3 separate regions of the Homo sapiens genome follow, and all the other regions are linked to region 3. Evidence: fine-mapped expression QTL. A gene starts in region 3. Each other region holds a variant in brackets. All regions are shown on one strand. Distances are between the middles of the regions. Region 1 has its middle 60 kb from the start of PID1. Region 2 overlaps DNER (delta/notch like EGF repeat containing). Region 3 holds the start of PID1 (phosphotyrosine interaction domain containing 1).

The links. PIP is the estimated chance that this variant, and not a neighbour inherited with it, causes the effect.
Region 1: its variant is fine-mapped to the expression of PID1 in whole blood (TOPMed, PIP 0.98).
Region 2: its variant is fine-mapped to the expression of PID1 in whole blood (TOPMed, PIP above 0.99).

Annotation. Positions count from the first base shown.
Region 1 is chr2:229,329,753-229,332,513 of GRCh38, reverse strand. No RefSeq gene overlaps it. Among named protein-coding and RNA genes, the nearest start is that of PID1, 60 kb to the right of the region's middle. RefSeq lists an enhancer at 806-1,886. The variant G/A (reference allele first, on the strand shown) is at 1,433.
Region 2 is chr2:229,414,910-229,417,670 of GRCh38, reverse strand. All of the region lies in intron 9 of DNER (delta/notch like EGF repeat containing), which reads left to right. Among named protein-coding and RNA genes, the nearest start is that of PID1, 150 kb to the right of the region's middle. The variant CAAAAAT/T (reference allele first, on the strand shown) is at 1,354.
Region 3 is chr2:229,270,093-229,272,853 of GRCh38, reverse strand. PID1 (phosphotyrosine interaction domain containing 1) reads left to right here and starts at 1,567. Exons shown (of 3, transcript NM_001100818.2): 1 at 1,567-1,840. The coding sequence starts at 1,811.

The DNA.
Region 1 (2,761 bases), 60 kb before region 3:
GGGAAGGTCACATGGAATTGCTTGGCACTTGGGATAGAGATGTTTCTAACTGCAGCAATTATGCTCTGAAGGGCTCCTCTCCCTGAACACGAGATTAATGAGTGCTATTGACAGCAAATATGATAATTATCTAATGATATTCATAAGTGTCTGAAATACTTGGCACTGTGCCTGTGACAACTTGGGAGCCATTTTCCATTTACATCTTAAAGTGAATCTAACTCATTTAAAAATAATAACAAACCGACCACCGTTGATAAAAACCATAGGTTAGATAAGCATTTAGTCTCCTCTACTGCCCCTCTGCAATTATGCATATGGAGGCTTCCAATCCTAAGCAGAGGCAAAGCCTTCCCCCGCTGACTGAATTTAGTCTCTAAGAAGACTGGCAATGGGAGCAAACTAAGGCCTCTTTAGAACCTGCATTGTTAGAGAGCCAAGCTTTTAATTAAAATACAACTGGGTACAAACCTGTACAGAAGCCATACTTAAGGGAGACACAAGTTTTGCAACCTCACCCCAGCAGTCTTACGTTGGGAGCAGGTGGTGCTGGAGGGCAGACACATTGGAGGTGCTGGAAGAAGGTGGTCGTGACTGGTGGGGCAGGTAGGGGTCACCATTCCACGTTGAGGTCCAGGATGATAGAAGTGCTTCAGGGGCAAGGAGAGGTCCTTCACTAAGGTAGACCATGCACTCAGATGTTGCCCACGGAGAAGGTAGTATGGGGTCAACATCTGCCAAAGGACTATCTAGCTGGAGTCTCAGAAAGACAGGAAAGTGAGTTCTCCAGAAGAAGAGGGTTAGGCCACAGTTCTTACGGATTCAGGTGCAAAAGATGTGATTTACCCCTCGATACTTAAGTACAAAAACGTCAGGTGTTTTCCTGAATCAAATTTAGCCTGACTTAGGTCTTAGCCTTCTCTTTTTGATAATGTACAAAATGCCAGAACTTACACAATCTTGAAATGTTGATAAAGAGCCTGGGGTCTCTGGTGGCCACTGAGCTACTCAGGAAATAGGCAGCAAGGCTCATCAGAAGATGTGGGAAGAGAGGGACCAGGTGATTTGCCCAGAGTCTCACAGCAGGTAGGTGGGCCAAGACTCACACACGGCACTTTTGTCTCTTACCAGCCCAGGCCATTTGTCTTCTCTCCTCCTCCTTGTGCCAAATCCATTCAACAGAATAGGTGCTCTCAGTGAGTCTCTAGTGGAGAAGTTTTCAAGTAGCCACACAGCAATTACGCAGTGCCAGCAATTGTCATATCAGCCCTAAGAAAGGTTTTGAAAGCTGCAGTGAAAGGACTCCACGTCTCCAAGTCTCGTGCTCAGAGAGTTCAGAAACCAAATAGGAAGTGAAACCACAGGACCATCTGCAAGAGAAAAAAATAAAGAAATGAGGAAGCCAGGAGGGGGAAGCATGGAAATGAACCCT[G/A]ACCAGGGTACTGATGACAGTTAAATAAGGGCAAGACTTGATGAACGATGGGAAGTCTTGGTTGTATTAAGAACCAAAGGTTACTTCAACAAGCATTTACGGAGTGACTTTCCTGTGCCAAATCCTATGCGAGGTGCTGAGGATATAAAGATTAATTAGACCTCCAGCTCATTGCTGAGTCCAGAGACTATAGTATTTCACAGATTCAATCACAGATATCTGTACAAGGCACAGAACCCATTAGGAAGAAAGAGTGATTTCATAGCTCATGGGGTGAATGAAGGCATAGCTCATATGCCAGCTGTCTGCTGTCCTTTGAAATAAATAAAACATTTTATTTATTTCAAAGGACAGCTGGAAATATTTTATTTACTTATTTTTATTTAATGTACTTCATCAAAAATAATTAACTCCAGGCCCCTAGCTCATGATTAGGGAACAGCCAATGGACTCTCCAAAATTTCTGGCAACTTCCAGGGTCTCACAGGCTCACAGTTCCTTCTGACTCTGAGAACCCAACAGAGGTCAGACTCACAAGACCATGTGTCTCACTTTCTACAGCTTTTCTTTCCTGTGCTCCATTCTGACCCAGATATGGATCTCATCCTTTTTCTACAAAAAGCTTTCACACAAGCTGGAGTTGGATTAAAAAATAATAGTATGGCGAGGCACGGTGGCTCACGCCTGTAATCTCAGCACTTTGGGAGGCTAAGGCAGGCAATCACTTGATATCAGGAGCTTGAGAGAAGCCTGGCCAACATGGTGAAACCCCATCTCTACTAAAAATACAAAAATTGCCAGGCACAGTGGTGCGTGCCTGTAATCCCAGCTACTTGGGAGGCTGAGGCAGGAGAATCACTTGAATCTGGGAGACAGTGGTTGCAGTGAGCTGAGATCGCACCACTGCACTCCAGCCTGGGCAACAGAATGAGACTTTGTCTCAAAAAAAAAAAAAAAAGAAAAGAAAAAAAACACCCAAAAAAGTATGGAGATGAACACTAAAGAATAGGAATAAATCACCCCCAGTCAGAATTGGCATTGGCTGTTAAAAGTTTCATGTGACTACTTTACCAGCTGAAAATCAGCTCTTCACACAAGGCACATGTAGGTCAACTGAATTTAATGAAAATATGTGAACATGGCTTTTCCACTTAAATGACTGAAAATCTAATATGACTTAGTCCTATCTTTAAAAGTATTTCAGCCTTCTCACCATGGGAATTCTTCACTGGCCAACTTGCCCAGAAAACTGCTACCTTCCTCCATCGCTGCTTGATCATCTTTCCTCCAGAGCCTCTTTACCAATCCATGACCAGCATTTTTCCAAAA
Region 2 (2,761 bases), 140 kb before region 3:
TATTAAAAACAGGCGACATTGACAGAGTGTTTCCAATGTGTGGACCCCGTTCTAACCCCTAATGTGCATAGCTCACTAAATCCCCCCGAGAACCCTATGAGGTGGACAGTAATGCTCTTCCCCTATAAGCCTGGTCAGCGTGGTTCCTAAAGCCCTTTCCCAGCATCTTCACTGGCCTCTGGCCACGTTTTGTGGATGGCAAGGCTTCCTGGAGCCCAGATATCCTCAGACGGCCCTGTTCCAGGAGAACCTATTTATCAGCTGTTGCACACATTTCTCTAAGCCATAACTACGGGGCCGGGTTTAGATTTTGGAATGCGTTTGTGGGCTCTATTTATAGCCATTTCATTCAACCGCTTGCTCCTATTGCTGCTTGCTTGATGCCATCCACCTGGCTGGAGACCTTGCATTGCCCTCACCGTTGCTTCTCTTTGGATGAACCTACCTTTATTTAGTAACCTTTTTGGCAAGTCTCATGGCCTTGTAGGCTACACTGAAAACTTGATTAAGCTCCTGGATAAGAGGGCTGAAGCTGGGCCAGGTCTTGACTTTGTGTTCCACAGATCTGATGCTTCTGTTGGAGTATGACGTTCGGTTAGAACCAAACTCCACTAACATCTACCAGGACACAACAGCAGATGTGCTGGCTTCATTCTCAGGCTTCTCAGTTCTGAGTCTATCTATCTATTACCTTTCTCTCTACATATCTTCAACCTCCTTCTTTCCCCTTGCTCCTTTCCATGTGTATAAATATTTTCATGGATTTCTTACTCTGAACAAATGAAGATTCTAGGAAGATGGCAGCTCACATTGACATTCAATATCTCTGATCCCTCCTGACTCTCTGCTAGGGATGGCTCAATAAGGTAGATGACCCTGAATGGGGTCATCTGAAGATTTGGGGTCTCAAGAAAGGGTATGTGTGCTGGGAGCCTTTGCTTAACCACAAGAACAGGGGATGAGGGCTCCAGAGAGAACTGATGACTCAATGAACAGATTAGTCCAAAAAAATCCTTCAGCTTATAGAGAGGAAGTGCATGCTGTAATTGTGCTGCGTCTGACCCTAGGAGGCAGAGGGGTGTACTGATCTCATGGCTACGGGCTGCTGTCTAAGGAAATTGCACAGTAGGCTGAGCTGGCCCCCCCATTTTTTGTGGCCTTGAGAACACCAAACTGGGAGGCCTCTCTCTGCCTCATGCCTTAGTACACAGGGCCCCATTGGCTGCCCATCCATCCCTGAAGGGGAATGTGTTATGTTGTCTGTCTCTGCCAAGATTTCCACCCACTAGCCTGGCCAGTACACTAGCCCACGCCAGCAACTCAGAGAGGGAGAAAAGTTTTGGGAAATAAAAA[CAAAAAT/T]TGCAACAACAGCTCTAAACACTCAAGAAAGGAAGTGAAGAAAGTAATGTACACTACTCAAAATTGAATTTGGATCTGAATAAAAAGGAGGAACTAGTGCATGAGAGAATCAAAATATGAGGAAGTGGAAACCACGAGTGAAAAGACAGGAAACATGGAGAAAAGATTTGAGAGATCTGCTTCTGCCTGAGCGATGGGTGCTCCAGAAGAAGGAGCATGTGGAAATAGAAGCAGAATTAACTAACTCCTAGAAGGAGGTGTCTGTGAGGTGAAGAAAGTCTTATTTTCAAATAGAATGGGCTCACAGGGCAGTAATGGGATTAATGAAGGAGATGATACACAATTTGAGATTTCCTGGTAAAATTTGTAACTGCAAGGATAAAGAGAATTTTTTACAAGATTCTTCGAAGGGATCACAGGTTACATACAGAAGAAAGAGAATCAAATCGGCATTGTACTGCCCCTCTCTATCATGAGGTAAAGAATAGCAGAGCAGCGTTTCAGACTTTTAAATGAAAAGGACTAGGAGTTTGTTGTTTATATTTGAGGGCAAAAGAAAGACATTGCCATACATTCAAGGATACAGAAAATATAGCACCCTATACCCTAAGATAAGTACCTTAATAAGCATCGCCACCAAATAGGAACTAAATCAAAACAAAGATATCCAGATAGGGGAAGATGGAGAATGGAAGGAAGAGATGTATGCCTTTAAATGCAGGCATAAATCTAAATATTTGATATTTATGTGATTGTGAATGGTAATATAATGGTGAAGGAAAGTCTCTTGAAAAAAGTAGATCCGCCTTCTGTATCAGCTATCTATTGCTGCATAACAAATCAGTACCCGGTACTGGCTTAAACAACATGCTTTTATTACCTAACAGTTTCCTAGGTCCAGGTGTGGCTTAGTCAATTCCCAGCTCAGGGGCTCACAAGGGTGAAAGCCAGGTATTGACTGACTGAGCTCTCATCTGAGGCTTGAATAGTGAGAAATCAGCTTCCAAGTCCCCTTAGGTTATTGGCAGAACTTATATCCTCGTGGCTGTAGGATTTGTGACAGCTTGCTCTTTGAAAGCTAGCAACTATGACAGAGACCCCACTGCTTCCAGTCTTGAACTTCCGGGAAGGCCTGGACTTTTTTTTTTTGTGATGGAGTTTCACTCTCATTGCCCAGGCTGGAGTGCAATGGTGTGATCTCGGCTCACACCAACCTCCACCTCCTGGGTTCAAGCGATTCTCCTGCCTCAGCCTCCTGAGTAGCTGGGATTACAGGCATTCACCACCATGCCCAGCTGATTTTGGATTTTTAGTAGAGACAAAGTTTCTCCATGTTGGTCAGGCTGGTCTTGAACTCCCGACCTCAGGTGATCCACCTGTCTTGGCCTCCCGAAGTGCTGGG
Region 3 (2,761 bases):
ATAGGGGCTTCTGTCCCACGGAGAGTTGCTGCGAGGGTCCGATGAGCTGAGGGTTAGATTCTGGAGTGGTTCCATATCTGGAAATCATTGTAGTCATGCAGAACAAGGAAAATGGACAGATCCTCCTTCCAGACATGGAGTGTGGATTTTGACATTGCATGAGTAGCTCACGGCCCAAGCTGTGCAGCTGTCTCAGTATGAAATGCCTCTCTTTCACACCCCTCTGCTCTCAGGACCCTGCCTTGTAGGAGCCTAGGGCTCCCCACAAACATTGTGTTCTCTCTGCTCCTCTCTTTGGTCATTCTATGTCCTGAGTTCTTCCCACCATGTTCTCCTCTCCCACTCTTCATCAGCTCGAGAATCAGCTTAGTATCCCTGACTTGCCAAGTGCCTTTAACCCCCAGCCCTAGACGGATGCTCTTTCCACTGGGTTTCCATGGTCAGTTAGAGGCGCAGGGCCACATCTCCTGCCCTGAAGTCATCTGACTGTGCACTCTCTAAGCCACTCACTGGCTGTGTGACCTGGACAAGTGACCTAAACCTTATAAGCCTCATTTGTTTGATCCACATGGTGAAAATATTAATAGTTATTTTGCCGAGTTGTCAAGAGAATGGGAAGGGCTGGCCTGTTTAGGACAGGAAGTCATCTCATGGTGGCCGGCACTAGCCGGGGAGCCTCCAGGCCTGCGAGCCCAGAGCGGCTTTCCCTTGGGTTCTGAGAGCCTCCTGCTGCACCTGGCAGATCTCAGGATGAGTTAGTGATTCGGGAGTCTGCATGGCCCTCCTCACCCCTGTATAGGTTAGGAGTCGAGTCCTCTCCCCATCATGAAGCATGGCCTCTTCGTGGCCAATCCCTCTCATCTCTCAGGTCTTACTCCAGGCATTCCCCAGGGCCCTTGTCTAAGAAGCTCTCCTCTCCCCTTCTTCCCACATCTGCCCTGTTTTATCACCACCCGATATAGCACCGGCTTGTTGATGTGTTTGCTCAGTCACGACTCTCTCTCCAAAGCAGAAGGTAAGCTCCAGAGAGAAGGAACATTCTCTTGTCTTCTATTCTGCGTCGCTGCATCCTCAGAACCCAGCATAGGGGCTGGAGCCTAATAGATGCTCAGTTAACTGGAGTGGGAAGAATGAATGGAAGTGTCTCCCTAGCACAGCGCCAGGCACAGCACAGGCACTTCAGAGATGCCTGTTATATGGAAACCCGGGACCCCCGGGGCTACGGTTTCCTTATTTTAGGAATTTCCCCCACCCCCGCCACCCCCGACATCCCCGCTGCCCCCACCACCCCCGGCTCCAGGCCCTTCCCCCCTCAGCCAGTCTGTCCCTTTTCCCAGACCCCAACCCAATGGGGGCTTCCTGCAGGGAAGGGCCGGCTGTTCTAGCCTCCCCATTCACCCCTCACTAGGATTTAGAGTCGGCCGCGCTGCACTCCCGCCCCGCGCGGCCCCTGGGCGCCCGCCCCGGGCATGCTCAGAGCGCGCAGGTCCGGGCGGCGGCGGCGGGGGAGGAGGGAGCGGCCGCCCCCGCCGCCGCCGCGCGCTCGCCGGGCCCGGGCGGAGCTGCGCAGTCCTCTCGCAGCTGCGCCAGGACAGCCGGCGCGCGGCCGTGCCCACAAGTTGCCGGCAGCTGAGCGCCGCGCCTCCTCCTGCTCGCAGCCCCCTACGCCCACCCGGCGGCGGTGGCCAGCGCCAGGACGCACATCCCGCGGACACCGACCCCAGATGTAAAGCGGGACCCCAGCCCCTCGCCCCCCGGCGCGATCGACAGTCTCGCCAGCGTCTCCTCTGCCAAAACCCAGGGCTGGAAGATGTGGCAGCCGGCCACGGAGCGCCTGCAGGTAAGGGGCACCCGGGAGCCGGGGGCCAGCCTGGAGGAGGAGGTGCCCGGGCAGAGGAACCTAGTTTTTGCTTCTGCCTACTTTAGGGGATTTGCCCAAAACCATCTTGTAAGACGCATCGATGGCAACATGATGCTGTCGGTTTACCCAGCGCCAGGAACCCGGCAGGGGTATGGGGATGATGAAATTGATAAACGCACGGGTTCAGGCGTTACAACTTTTGGCTTGGAGGTGCTTGTGTGCGTGTTGGTTGGTACATATAAGGTTGGACTTTCTGACTGGCAATTTAGATTGCATTCCACTGACACAATGCAGTGGTCTGGGGTTAGGATTTTTGAAGCCAGATTTTTTTTTTTTTTTTTTTTTTTTTGTGGTCACCAGGAAAGACAGAACAAGTGATATGTGAAAGCATCCATTTGCCAATATAATGTGGAAATATCAAGCTTGGTTTGGCTTGGTCATGGTATGCTACTTATTTTATTTTTCCCTATTCATTGGTTCTCTCCCTTTATCTTCCTTAAACCCAAGCTCCTTCAGATATTTAAGAATCAAAAGTAGGTTCAGCCAGGAATATTTATGTCCTGGGTTATCCCATCAAAAGTTTTTTACTGCTGTCTCCTGAAATGCCAGACTGCCTTGAATTGGATTCTGGAAGCTGGGGATTTGCGGGAGGCGATTGAAGAGAAAGAGGGACCTTTCCCAGAAGAACTCCTTCAGTGACACGTTGGGCCTTGGGATTGCCCTGGTTGCAAGGTTTGAGGACTGCCTTTTGCTGGCAAATATTGTCAAGAGTCACGGCAGCTACTCTGCCAGATAAAATCCACTGAATCCTGCAGTTAAACTTTTGGCAAGCTAGGAGCCACATTGTTTCGTAGTAAACTTTGAAGACGTGTTTAACTGGTAAAATACAGCACCATTGGA